Linked DNA regions of Homo sapiens: region 2 is linked to region 1. A link means that fine-mapping ties the variant in region 1 to the expression of a gene that starts in the linked region. Tissue or cell type: whole blood. Region 1 holds a variant in brackets; the other region holds the start of a gene. All regions are shown on one strand. Distances are from middle to middle.

Region 1 (7,432 bases):
CACTCACTGCAACCTCCGCCTCCTGGGTTCAAGTGATTCTCCTGCCTCAGCCTCCCCAGCAGCTAGGATTACAGGCACATGCCACCGCGCCTGGCTAATTTTTTGTATTTTTAGTAGAGACAAGGTTTCACCATGTTGACCAGACTGGTCTTGAACTCCTGACCTCAAGTGATCCACCCGCCTCGGCCACCCAAAGTGCTGGGATTACAGGCGTGAGCCACCGCGCCTGGCCCACATTTTCTTTATATATATGAATATCTCTGTCGGATATAAAATGCTTTAGGAATAAATTCTTGGTCCCACGAAGTAAAACTAGCACTTAGGGGAAAGTTTCATTTGTTTAGCAAGGCAATTTACTTCTGCAGAAGTGTGCCACTTGTGTCAATCAAGATCACAAGAGCACAGAGAACAAAGGTCACCGGGGGTTTTTTTATCCTTAATGCGGTCCCTATCTCTGTGTCACTCCTTCATGGGCTGGGGTTCGACCACACAATCTGAGCTGACCCGACTGGCTACTTGTACGTATTTTTCTAAATATAGAAGGAGAGGGGAACGTGAGGTACAGAGATGGAGCGTGTGAGACGTGCAGTTTCGGGGGAACAATGGGTACAGGTAACCAAGGGAACAGATGTGAGTTATTGATTAGAGCTGACGGGAAGGGGGTAGGCTGTTTTACAGTAACTAGGGGCAAGGAGGAACAGGAAAGTTGAGCTGGAGAACAAAAGACAAGGAAGTTAGCAGGCTAAGTCTTTGAAGAGAAACTCAGAGAGGCCAGGCGCGGTGGCTCACGCCTGTAATCGCAGCACTTTGGGAGGCTGAGGCGGGTAGATCACGAGGTCAGGAGATCGAGACCATCCTGGCTAACATGGTGAAACCCCGTCTCTACTAAAAAATACGAAAAATTAGCCAGTCGTGGTGGTGGGCGCCTGTAGTCCCAGCTACTCGGGAGGCTGAGGCAGGAGAATGGCATGAACCCAGGAGGCAGAGCTTGCAGTGAGCCGAGATCACGCCACTGCACTCCAGCCTGGGTGACAGAGTGAGACTCCGTCTCAAAAAAAAAAAAAAAAAGAAACTCAGAGAAATTTACTGTATGTTACAATTCCTCCCTTTTAATTTTCTTATGATTTTTTCTCTTTAAACTTTTTTAACGTGTTTTGGCTTTGCTGTTTGATTTGATCTTTTAAAAGGAAAAGCTTACTTGAATAAGGTGGAGGAGAACTAAGGGAGGTTTCAGTAAATGCTGTTCGTACAATCCTTTGTATTAGCCTACGGATGCATGGTATGACACAACGCCTAACAAGAATAAGTACACCTGTTACGACTGTAAAAGAAATAAGTATTGAGGCTATGATTCTTTATTGACTGAACTACTTTCCTAGCCATCTTGAAATAGGGTCATTGACTCCAGAAATTTTAGCTAATTCATTGGATAAAGCGGTAAGTCTTTGCAAGGCCTTTGTTATGCTCTCACTGGGGGCAGTGTTGTTTGGAATGAAGGTACAACACTGGGTTTTAATCATAACACAAACTCCACCTTTTTTGGCTAATAACATGTCTGGAGCCATTCTGGTTTTTATTTTTTGAGATGGAGTCTCACTTCGTGGCCCAGGCTGGAGTGCAGTGGCACCATATTGTCTCACTGCAAGCTCTGCCTCCCGGGTTCACGCCATTCTCCTGCCTCAGCCTCCCCAGTAGCTGGGACTACAGGTGCCCGCCACTACGCCCGGATACTTTTTTTGTATTTTTTAGTAGAGACGGGGGTTTCACCATGTTAGCCAGGATGGTCTCGATCTCCTGACCTTGTGATCCGCCCACCTTGGCCTCCCAAAGTGCTGGGATTACAGGCATGAGCCACCGCGCCCAGTCAAGTGATTCTGTTTTCTTAAGCTATTTGGCTAGTAGGCCTTAACTGGTCAGCTGTTTTTTGATAAGATCCTTGGTGTAATTCATAAACTGCTGCTAATTATAATAGATGTAATTTATCGAAGCTACATTTTTATTAATAGTTATTCGGGGAAATATGGGTTTAAATCTTGCAGTTATTTGGTCTCAGGTTTTGAACTTGTTAGGCACTCCCCATGGGACTCTAATGGCCTTTATGTAAACTTGAGAGTCAAAAGACTTATAAGGGGCTTCTCTTATTTTTTGGTGTTGTGGCTTTTCTTTTTTTTTGGTTGATGAAATGCCAGTGTGAAAGGGATCGCCAATTGGACAAGAGCGCAAGTGCCGCTCCAGTTACTTGGCAGAGTATCCAGTAAAGGTCCACTACAATACCACCATACATCTGCTTGAGGATGACTAAGGGCAGACTGATGGGTAAGTTTTTGGAAGGGCTTAAGCTTATTGCATCTTGTTAAGCTTCTAAGGAACGCCAGATTCTCCCCTCGTCGTGAGAGACATGAGGTGAAATTGACGTCAGGAGAAGGAAGCTGAATGGCCTTTGGGGGCTGGCCTGCAGGTTGTTGGACTTCGGGATATAGCAGAGAGAGAGCTTGGCATGATTTGTTGCCCCAGGCTGTGGAATTTTGGAAAAGAGCTACCATACAGCCTATGCCTGGTCGGCTGAAGGGCTATCCTAGTGGAAAGGAAACAGTCTGGGCCTCTAGTCTGCCATGCATACAAGCGTAACAATTGCTTTTGTTCAATGTGCGGACGGAATATTGAATCCATTCCAACCAGGTATTTACATCTTGATATCCTGTTTTAATTGCTAGGGTTTGTCTTAAATCTTTTACTTCTACAATATTTACTTTAGTAGTATCATTAGGTAGAAAACAGGTGGCAGTCTGATTAGAAGAAAGCTTAGAAGGAGAAGAGAAGGAAGGGGGTGAAGAGAATGAAGGATTAATAAAACGCATTTCGAAAGATCTTATGAGGTCTGTGCTGGCCAAGTTGGCTCCTGTTCCATAGAAGTGACTTAAAGTAGGTTTAGGGTCAGTAGAGGTGGAAATTTGTATGGGATTACATTGATTATACTGGCAATTGGGGAGGTGCTTTTTTTAGTGAAATGAATGTATGGTTTTAAGGATATACAGCCACCTGCTGATGAGGTCTAGCCTTGACATTTGGTTGTCCATAGGACATCATTCTAGCTATGACAGACTTGTTTTCTTATATTTGTTAAGGAACAAGAGTCTTGGTAGGGGGGG[C/GC]CTTTCACCTTAAAGGGGCAGAGATACTTTTCTGAGGCTGAGACTTGTCTTTGACTTTGGAGATCTTTACAGGGTATGACTAGACATAGCATTAAACGTGATAACTTGGGGTGAGTTTGATTGAGTTACATTAATGACAAGGTGGTCAGCATTGGAAGGGGAAAAGAAGAAAGAGTAATAGAATAGATGTAAGAGGTTAAATTTTTCTTAGCTTTAGTTTGAGGGGGTTTTCCCCTGGAATAATGGCCTACGACTTTGGGGGTGGCGGTGCTTTCTTGACTCGGGTGTGATGGGTCTATCCTTTCTCTGCTGTCCAGACTGCAGTTTCAATGGTGGGAAGTACTAGGCCAGCTCCTCAGGCCGGTGTTGACGCACTGGGAACTCCAGGAGCCGCACCTGTACTGGAAAATTGTGAGTTTTGAGGGAAGAGAAAGTGGAAGATAAACCAAGTATGTAGGAATGTTGGCAGTGGATTGCTTTGAGAGGTAGTTTGGATTAATAGGAAGACAGAAGACATTTGAGTTATGGCAACTAAGTTTCTAGACTTGTTTGGCTAAGGATGTACATTTTCATACACATATAAACTTTAACTGTGCTATACATAGCTTGAGGTCTTTAATGGGTCCTCTAATTTAGGTGGGATAGGACTTCTTTCATAAGAGGTTTAAATAACATTTGAATTCCCTTCAGTGCCTACAGGAGAAACGGCAGCTGGTTCGGATTATCTGATTTGCTAGGTTATTTTCTTAACTCTTGAAAGATAGGATTTTTGGTGCCTGGGGACGTGGAAAATAGCTTTTTTTTTTTTTCTGGTAACTGAAGGTTATTTAACACTTGGGTTATTAACTCTTCATGAACAAGGCTTTGACCTTTATTATTGTCTGAAATTTTCTAAATGTATGAGCCACGATAAAGGTGTATTTAGAATCAATATAGATTAGTATAGATGGTTCCTTTGCAGTTACTTTAAAGCTTGACTAAGTGCAAACAGCTTACAAATTTGGGTAAACTATTAAACAATTTTTAAATTTTATTTCTCTAGGAACTTCTCTATTTATTATTGAACATCTGTTGAATCCTTTTTCCTTTAATCATTTTTGAAGGGGGTTTCTCTTAAGTTTGGCCGGACATTTGTATGGTAATCAGTTAAATCTAAACATGTGTGCTTCCTTTTTAGATTTGGATCTTTCGTTAAGAAACTTGTTAGGTTAAGCAAATTACTAGTAACATTAAACTATCATTTTTAACAGAATAGCCTCATATTTATACACATGTAATTCTTTTTTGGTGGTACATTTTAACATAGGTGACTTTAAAGAATCAGAGTTCTTTTCTGGTGGATATTTTCACTTTTAACACTGGCCTGACTATAATAAATGCTAGTGGATATATCCGCTGAAAGATTATCTACTTCTTGCTCAGGAAACTTAGCTGCGGGGATGCCAGGCTGCTTGGAGCCATCGCTGAAGCCCCGTATTACTTAGCCTCAGCAAAGTAAGGCAGATATCCTATAATGTAGTTTGCATGGGGCATAGGCTGGGGCCTGGCTCGCATGTCATGCAGAGCTGCCGTCAATACAGTGCCAGGACCTTGGACCAGCCAGTGGGCAGGAGCATGGGCTTTGCCGCTGCAGGGGTGCACTATGGGCCAGACAACGCTGACAACATGTTGCGGCAGATCCTTCATGTTGCTAGCCTGGCAAAAGCCATCTGGTGAATTAGGAGCTTGGAGTTCTTTAGGGGAGAGGGACTTAGGCTGGGGAAGAACAGACTTACTGGGCGATGCCTGAGGGGAAGGGTTGGGTATTAGGTGGGGAATGGTCTAGGGGATCTTGCGAGTTGTTCTTTTTGCTAGGATCCCCCAAGCCCCTTCCTTCACTGTCTTTTTCATTAAAGATGGTTCTATCTTAATAGGGCACATGTACAACTCATTTTCCTCCAAATATTAGTTTTTGACTTGCTCCTTTCAATCCTTGGAGGAGGGGAAAGGACAACTCCTTGCAACTAACATAGGGCATAATTTGTTTCTTCTCAGGAGGCAGGTCTTCTACTAGCAACATTTTCTATTAGAAGTTCACAAATCCATCCCTCATTCGACTTAAATTCTGGCCAGAAAACTAAGGGTTCAAGGATTCGTTCTTGAGTCTAAATGGAACAGCAATATTTTATCACTAATTGCTTTTTCTTATGTTTAGTCTTTTCATTATCTTTCTAATGTTTTAACATGAGACCTAGGGGACTATTAGGGGGGATATCTTTGTTGCTAACTTTGTCTTTTTTGCTTGTAATATTTCCTATACTGGGTCCTGGCTAGGCTCAATCCCTCGTGATAGGAATCTCTTGCCTAGGGGGGCTTGCTGTGGCTCAACCCCTCATATTAAGGATCTCTTGCCTATTTTGGGGGTTCCTTGTGGCTCAGCCTCTCAAATTAAGGATCTCTTGCCTATTTGGGGGGTTCCTTGTGGCTCAACCCCTCATATTAGGAGGTCTTTTGCCTATCCCTCACTGGAAGTGTGGCTAAGGCTCAATTCCACTATCCTTTAGCTCCACCTGCTGGAGGTTCCTTGCACCCTTCTTTCGCTTCATCCACTCTGGCCGCTTCCCTCGCAGGTTTGTTTCAGGTTCCTCTTAGCATTGATGGCAGGTCCGTATAAACCTGTGACAGGACCCCCGCAGGGCTGCCCTAAGCCGTGTGAGGTGACCACAGAACCGCAGATTGGACTCACTCGCTCCGCACAGCAGTAGTGCTTGTTACCATTCATGCACTTTCAACCCCCAGAATGCCCTGACACACCCCTCCGACTACCAAAGAATTACTTTGTTGCCCCTGCAACGTTTCCCACCTTGGTCTGTGCACAGAGTTTACCTGGTCGCTGCGGTATTGCAAGCCTCTCTTCCCCGCGTTGCTGAGAGTCCGGGTTTATTCGTCAAAATGGGTGGGTCTCGATCTCCTGTCCCTGAGGCCACCGCAATGGGGCAGTGGGACGCGTCTCCCCAGGGTAGGGTGACTGAAGAACTCTTCCAAAAGGAGCATGGGGATCTCGGACGATCCCCTAGAATTGTTGGATATAAAATGCTCCCGGAATAAAAGCTTGGTGCCGTGAAGTAAAACCAGCACTCAGGCAAAATTTTAATTCTCTCAGCAAGGCAATTTACTACTGCAGAAGGGTGCCACTCACGTCAATCAAGATCACAAGAGCACAGAGAACAAAGGAGACCAGGAGGTTTTTATCCTTAATGCGGTCCCTATCTCTGTGTTACTCCCCCATGGGCTGGGGTCGGACCGCACAGTCTGAGCTGACCCGATTGGCTGCTTGTACATATTTTTCTAAATATAGAAGGGGAGGGGGATGTGAGGTACAGAGGTGGAGCATGTGAGATGTGCAGTTTTGGGGGAACAATGGGTACAGGTAACCAAGGGAACAGATGTGAGTTATTGATTAGAGCTGATGGGAACGGGGTAGGCTGTTTTAAAGTAACTAGGGGCAAGGAGGAACAGGAAAGTTGAGTTTGAGAACAAAAGACGAGGAAGTTAGCAGGCTAAATCTTTAAAGAAAAACTTAAAGAAATTCACTGTATCTTACAAATCTGACCCCAGTGGCCCCATGCATGTCAAACCCCAAACCCTGCCCAGAAGACAGCCCCAGGCTCCAGAGGTACAACACCAGAAAGGACAGAACCCCCACACATACGTGTGCATGTGGGTCTTCTGCTTTCCAGGGCTCTTCAGCTTCTCGGAATCCGCACTCCTTCTGGAGCTGCTCTGAGCAATTGGAGGCCACCTGTAGGGGAGGGCGGGCTGCCCGGAAGCCCCCAGGAAAGGCTCCTTTCCCTTCCTTTGCAGGCTCCACACTGGCCTCAGCGTTGAGTCACCGGCCTCGGGCTCTGCTGCCCCCTGCAGGTTATTCAGCTACTTCTCACCCCATTGATCAGTTCCATGACACAAACACCCTCAATCCCATTGTGTGAATAAGACACCAGCAGAGTCCCTGCTCTCCTCCTATGTTTATGTATAAAGTGGGGAAGGAAAATTCTAAGATAACTTAAGTGCATTTAAAAGATTTCCAGATCGTGGTGGAGGTGGCAGCTGAGGGACGCACGTTCAGTGACACTGCAGTACCTCCGGGCCTGGCTGGTTGGAGAGAGGGTGGAGAGCTGGAGATGAATGTGGATATATGGAGGGAGCAGCCCTGGGAACCGGGCTCTGCAGCAGCGCGGCTCTAGGGCCTGGAGCCCGGGGGAGCAGAGATGATGGGGGCTCCTGGGACAGGACGCTTGGGGAGA
Region 2 (5,000 bases), 1.0 Mb before region 1:
GAGATGGGGTTTCGAAATGCTGGCCAGGCTGGTTTCGAAATCCTGACCTCAGGTAATCTGCCAGCCTCGGCCTCTCAAAGTGCTGGGATTACAGGCGTGAGGCACCGCACCCGGCCGGAAAAATGGCTGGTCATAATTTAACTACTACACCTACAGTTTAGCAGAATTCAGGCTCCTCTCATCCTCCTAACCTAGTGCCCTTTCATTATTTCTACAAAGGCAGTTTAGTTTGGGGAAGGGCTATTATCATTTAAGCTATAAACTAAATTCCTCCCAAAATTAGCTTGGGGCCAGGCATGGTGGCTCCCTCTTTAATCCCAGCAATTTGGCAGGCTGAGGCGGGCAGATCACTTGAGCCCAGGAGTTCGACACCAGCCTGAGCCCCAAGGTGAAACCCCATCTCTACCAAAAATGGTGAAACCCAGTCTCTACCAAAAATACAAAAATTAGCTGGGCATGTGGCGCATGCCTGTAATCCCAGCTACTCAGGAAGCTGAGGCAGGAGGATTGCTTGAACCTAGGAGGCGGATGTTGCAGTGAGCTGAGATCACACCACTGGACTCCAGCCTGGGCGACAGAGTGAGACAACGTGTCAAAAAAAAAAAAAAAGTTAGCTTGACCCCACTCCAGGAATGACCAAGCAAGGGCAGTTTGGAGATTAAAGGCAAGATGGAGTTGGTTAGGTCAGAGCTCTTTCACTGACATAATTTTCTGTCATAATTTTTGCAAAGGCAGTTTCAAGCCAGTACTCAGATTCCCATAGCCCTTTGCCCTGCCATGATCCTTTGAGGCTGAGGTGGGAGAATCACTTGAACCCCGGAGTTCCAGAGCAGCCTGGGCAACATAGTGAGACCCTCATCTCTGCAATGAACAATTATCTGGGTGTGGTGGCACAGGCCTGTAGTACCAGCTACCTGGGAAGATCTCTTGAGCCCAGTAGGTTGAGGCTGCAGTGAACTGTGATGGAGTCACTGCATTCTAGCCTGGGTGAGAAACCATTATCCTGTCTCAAAACGACAAAAAACAAACATACAGTCACCTCTTTGCTAGCTCAGGGGATCCTGGAGAAAACGTGCAGAATGAAAAAGGAGAGTCTGGGTGGCGTGGATTACATGCCTGTAATCCCAGCACTTTGGGAGGCAAGACAGGTGGATCCCTTGAGCTCAGGAGTTCAGCCTGAGCCACATGGTGAAACCGTGTTTCAAAAAAAAAACTACAAAAATTAGCTGGGCATAGTGGCATGTGCCCGTGATCCCAGCTACTCGGGAGGCTGAGGTGAGAGGATCACTTGAGCTGGGGAGGCAGAGGTTGCAGTGAGCCAAGATTGCGCCACTGCACTCCGGCCTGGGCAACAGAGCGAGATATTGTCCGGGAAAAAAAAAAAAAAAAAAGGAAGGAAAAAAAAAAAGAAAGAAAAAGGGGAAGATACACTGGAACACAAATGCTTCTTAAGGGGCGCAGTGGCTCACTTCTGCAATCTTGGCACTTTCGGGGGCCGAGGCTGGTGGATCACGAGGTCAGGAGTTCGAGACCAGCCTAGTCAACATGGAAAAACCCCGTCTCTACTAAAACTACAAAAATTAGCCGGGCGTGGTGTCGGGCGCCTGTAATCCCAGCTACTCGGGAGGCTGAGGCAGGATAATCGCTTTAATCAGGAAGGCGGAGGTTGCAGTGAACCGAGATCGTGCCATTGCACTCCAGCCTGGGCGACAAGAGTGAAACTCCGTCTCAAAAAAAAAAAAAAAAAAAAAAAAAAAAAAAGAGGAAGAACAAAGGTCCCAAGAGTTGGACCCAGGTTGTAGGGCTGGAATAAAAAATAAAATACAAACTTGTGCCTGATCCAGAAACCCGGGCGGGAGTTGGGTCAGACAGAAGAGCGTGGGCTGGGATTAGCTACCACGAAAAGGAACGGTGGCCAGGCTCCAGGAGACGCTGGAGCGCCGGGCCCGTCGTGGGCGTGGTCTGGGCAGACTCAGCGTTGCCTTTTGCCTCTCCAAAACGCAGCATCGCGTCTCGGGGGAGGAGTCTGTACCCTCGTGATGTCCCCGCCCCGGTTCCCAGGCAAGTTTAGGGAAGTGAAAGGCGCCAGGTGCCAGTCCTGGCCTCTGATGTAACCCAGCGCCCCGCAGTCCCGACACAGATTCCTGGATCTCAGCCCCATAGCAGCTATGATCCCGCTGCTGCTGGCAGCGCTGCTGTGCGTCCCCGCCGGGGCCCTGACCTGCTACGGGGACTCCGGGCAGCCTGTAGACTGGTGAGTGCGCAGCGGGGGGCCTACCATCGCCCCGGGGTCCGGCTGCGGTCACTCAACCGGGATGGCTACCTCCTCGGGGAACCCTGGGGTGCCTTCTCTTCCCTCTCTCCTATTTCTGTGCATTCTCCGACCTCCAGGTTCGTGGTCTACAAGCTGCCAGCTCTTAGAGGGTCCGGGGAGGCGGCGCAGAGAGGGCTGCAGTACAAGTATCTGGACGAGAGCTCCGGAGGCTGGCGGGACGGCAGGGCACTCATCAACAGCCCGGAGGGGGCCGTGGGCCGAAGCCTGCAGCCGCTGTACCGGAGCAACACCAGCCAGGTGAAGGGGGCCCCGGGCCAACTAGGGGCGAAACTCTAGGGCTGCCCTGCCTGGGAGGAATTTCACGTTGCCTCCGTTTATCCGCCCGCAGCTCGCCTTCCTGCTCTACAATGACCAACCGCCTCAACCCAGCAAGGCTCAGGACTCTTCCATGCGTGGGCACACGAAGGGTGAGGCCTGGATTGGGGGCTGGGGAGAGACTCGGGTCCCATTTTTCCAAGGTAACCCCTGACGTGCATGGGGTGGTCGGGGAGATCTGCACTGTCAGACCCTGGGCATCTATTCCCCCCAACTTTTTTTTTTCTTTGTTTTTGAGACGGTGGGAGTTCGCTCTGTCACCCAAGCTGGAGTGCAGTGGCACAATCTTGGCTCACTGCAATCTCTGCCTCTGGGGTTGAAGCAATTCTCCTGTCTCAGCCTCCCAAGTAGCTGGTATTAAAGGCGCACCATCACACCAGGCTAATTTTCATATTTTTAGTACAGACGAGGTTTCACCATGTTGGCCAGGCTGGTCTCGAACTCCTGGTTTCTACCTCAAGTGATCTACCCGCCTTGGCCTCCCAAAGTGCTGGGATTACAGGAATGAGCCACCCTGCCCAGCCGAGTTCCTATGCATTTTTCCAAGCTAACCCCTGACCTCCATAGTGGGGTGGGAGATCTCCCCTGTCAGACCTTGGGCATCTATTTCCCCTATTTTATTTTCTTTTAGACAAGGTCTCACCCAGTCACCTAGGCTGGAGTGCAGTATCACAGCTCACTGCAGCCTTGACCTCCCAGGGCTCAGGTGATCCTCCTACCTCAGCCTCCCAAGTACTGGGCCTGCCGGTACCCCCCACCACGCCTGGCTTTTTTTTTTTTTTTTTTTTTTTGCGGCACTCTCTCTCCATCACCCAGGCTGGAGTTCGGTGGTGCAATCTCAGCTCACTGCAATCTCCATCTCCCCAGTTCAAGCGATTCTTCTGCCTCAGCCTCTGGAGTAGCTGGGATTACAGGTGTGCGCCACCATGCCCAGCTAAATGTTGTATGTTTTAGTAGAGATGGGGTTTTACCAGGTTGGACAGGCTGATATTGAACTCCTGACCTCAGGTGATCCACCTGCCTTGGCCTCCCAAAGTGCTGGGATTACAGGCGTGAGCCACCACACCTGGCCTACTTTTTGTATTTTTGTAGAGTGGGCTTTTGCCATGTTGCCTAGGCTGGTCTCTAAGTCCTGGTTCAAGCAATCCACCCACCTTGGCCTCTTAATGTGCTGCGATTACCGGCATGAGCCGCCACACCTGGCCTGTTTCCCTACCTTACATTACTCTTGGCGTTATTCTGGACTATAAGAATTTATGCCTGCAAAAACTGAGCTCAGCTGTGGTTCTAACACTGCTGGCACCCTCTCTAAGCCCCGCTGCAAACTGAGGGTGTTCCTGATTGCAGATGAGCTTGCTGGGAGGCCTGGAGCAATACCCTCTAATTGCCTTTTTTTTTTTTTTTTTTTTGAGAAGGAGTTTTGCTCTTGCTACCCAGGCTGGAGTGCAATGGTGCAATCTCGGCTCACTGCAACCTCCGCCTCCTGGGTTCAAGTGATTCTCCTGCATCAGCCTCCCGAGTAGCTGGGATTACAGGCATGCACCACCATGCCCGGCTAATGTTGTATTTTTAGTAGTGATGAGGTTTCTCCATGTTGGCCAGGCTGGTCTTGAACTCCCGACCTCAGGTGATCCGCCCTCCTCGGCTTCCCAAAGTGCTGGGATTACACTGCGTGGGGCCTGCCTTCTTTTTTTAAATTTTTATTTATTTATTTATTTATTTATTTATTTACTTACTTACTTACTTATGTTTGAGATGAAATTTTGCTCTGTGGCCCAGGCTGGAGTGCAGTGGTGGATCTCAGCTCACTGCAACCTCCACCTCCTGGGTTCAAGCGATTCTCCTGCCTCAGCCTCCTGAGTAGCTGGGATTACAGGCGTCCACCACCACGCTCAGCTAATTTTTGTATTTTTAGTAGAGATGGGGTTTCGCCATGTTGGCCAGGCTGATTTCTAACTCCTGACCTCAGGTGATCTGTGTGTCTCGGTCTCCCAAAGTGCTGGGATTACAGGCGTGAGCCACTGCGCCCGACCTCCCCTAATGCCTTCTTTTGGTCCAGGTGTCCTGCTCCTTGACCACGATGGGGGCTTCTGGCTGGTCCACAGTGTACCTAACTTCCCTCCACCGGCCTCCTCTGCTGCATACAGCTGGCCTCATAGCGCCTGTACCTACGGGCAGACCCTGCTCTGTGTGTCTTTTCCCTTCGCTCAGTTCTCGAAGATGGGTAAGTCGAGTCAGGGACACAGGATGAGTCCTGGGTTTACTGACCAGAACCTGGAACGATCTTGCATTTCCTCCTCCCCTTGTCCTCCAGGCAAGCAGCTGACCTACACCTACCCCTGGGTCTATA

Evidence for each region. PIP is the estimated chance that this variant, and not a neighbour inherited with it, causes the effect.
Region 2: it holds the start of DNASE2, and the variant in region 1 is fine-mapped to the expression of DNASE2 in whole blood (INTERVAL, PIP above 0.99).

The regions. Positions count from the first base shown.
Region 1 is chr19:11,879,664-11,887,095 of GRCh38, reverse strand. No RefSeq gene overlaps it. Among named protein-coding and RNA genes, the nearest start is that of ZNF69, 4.4 kb to the left of the region's middle. RefSeq lists an enhancer at 5,596-5,775. The variant C/GC (reference allele first, on the strand shown) is at 3,150.
Region 2 is chr19:12,878,544-12,883,543 of GRCh38, reverse strand. It overlaps DNASE2 (deoxyribonuclease 2, lysosomal), which reads left to right and starts at 2,095. Exons shown (of 6, transcript NM_001375.3): 1 at 2,095-2,254; 2 at 2,392-2,572; 3 at 2,664-2,742; 4 at 4,710-4,874; 5 at 4,965-5,000. The coding sequence starts at 2,169. RefSeq lists cis regulatory regions at 473-973, 1,713-2,273 and enhancers at 2,168-2,277, 1,937-2,564.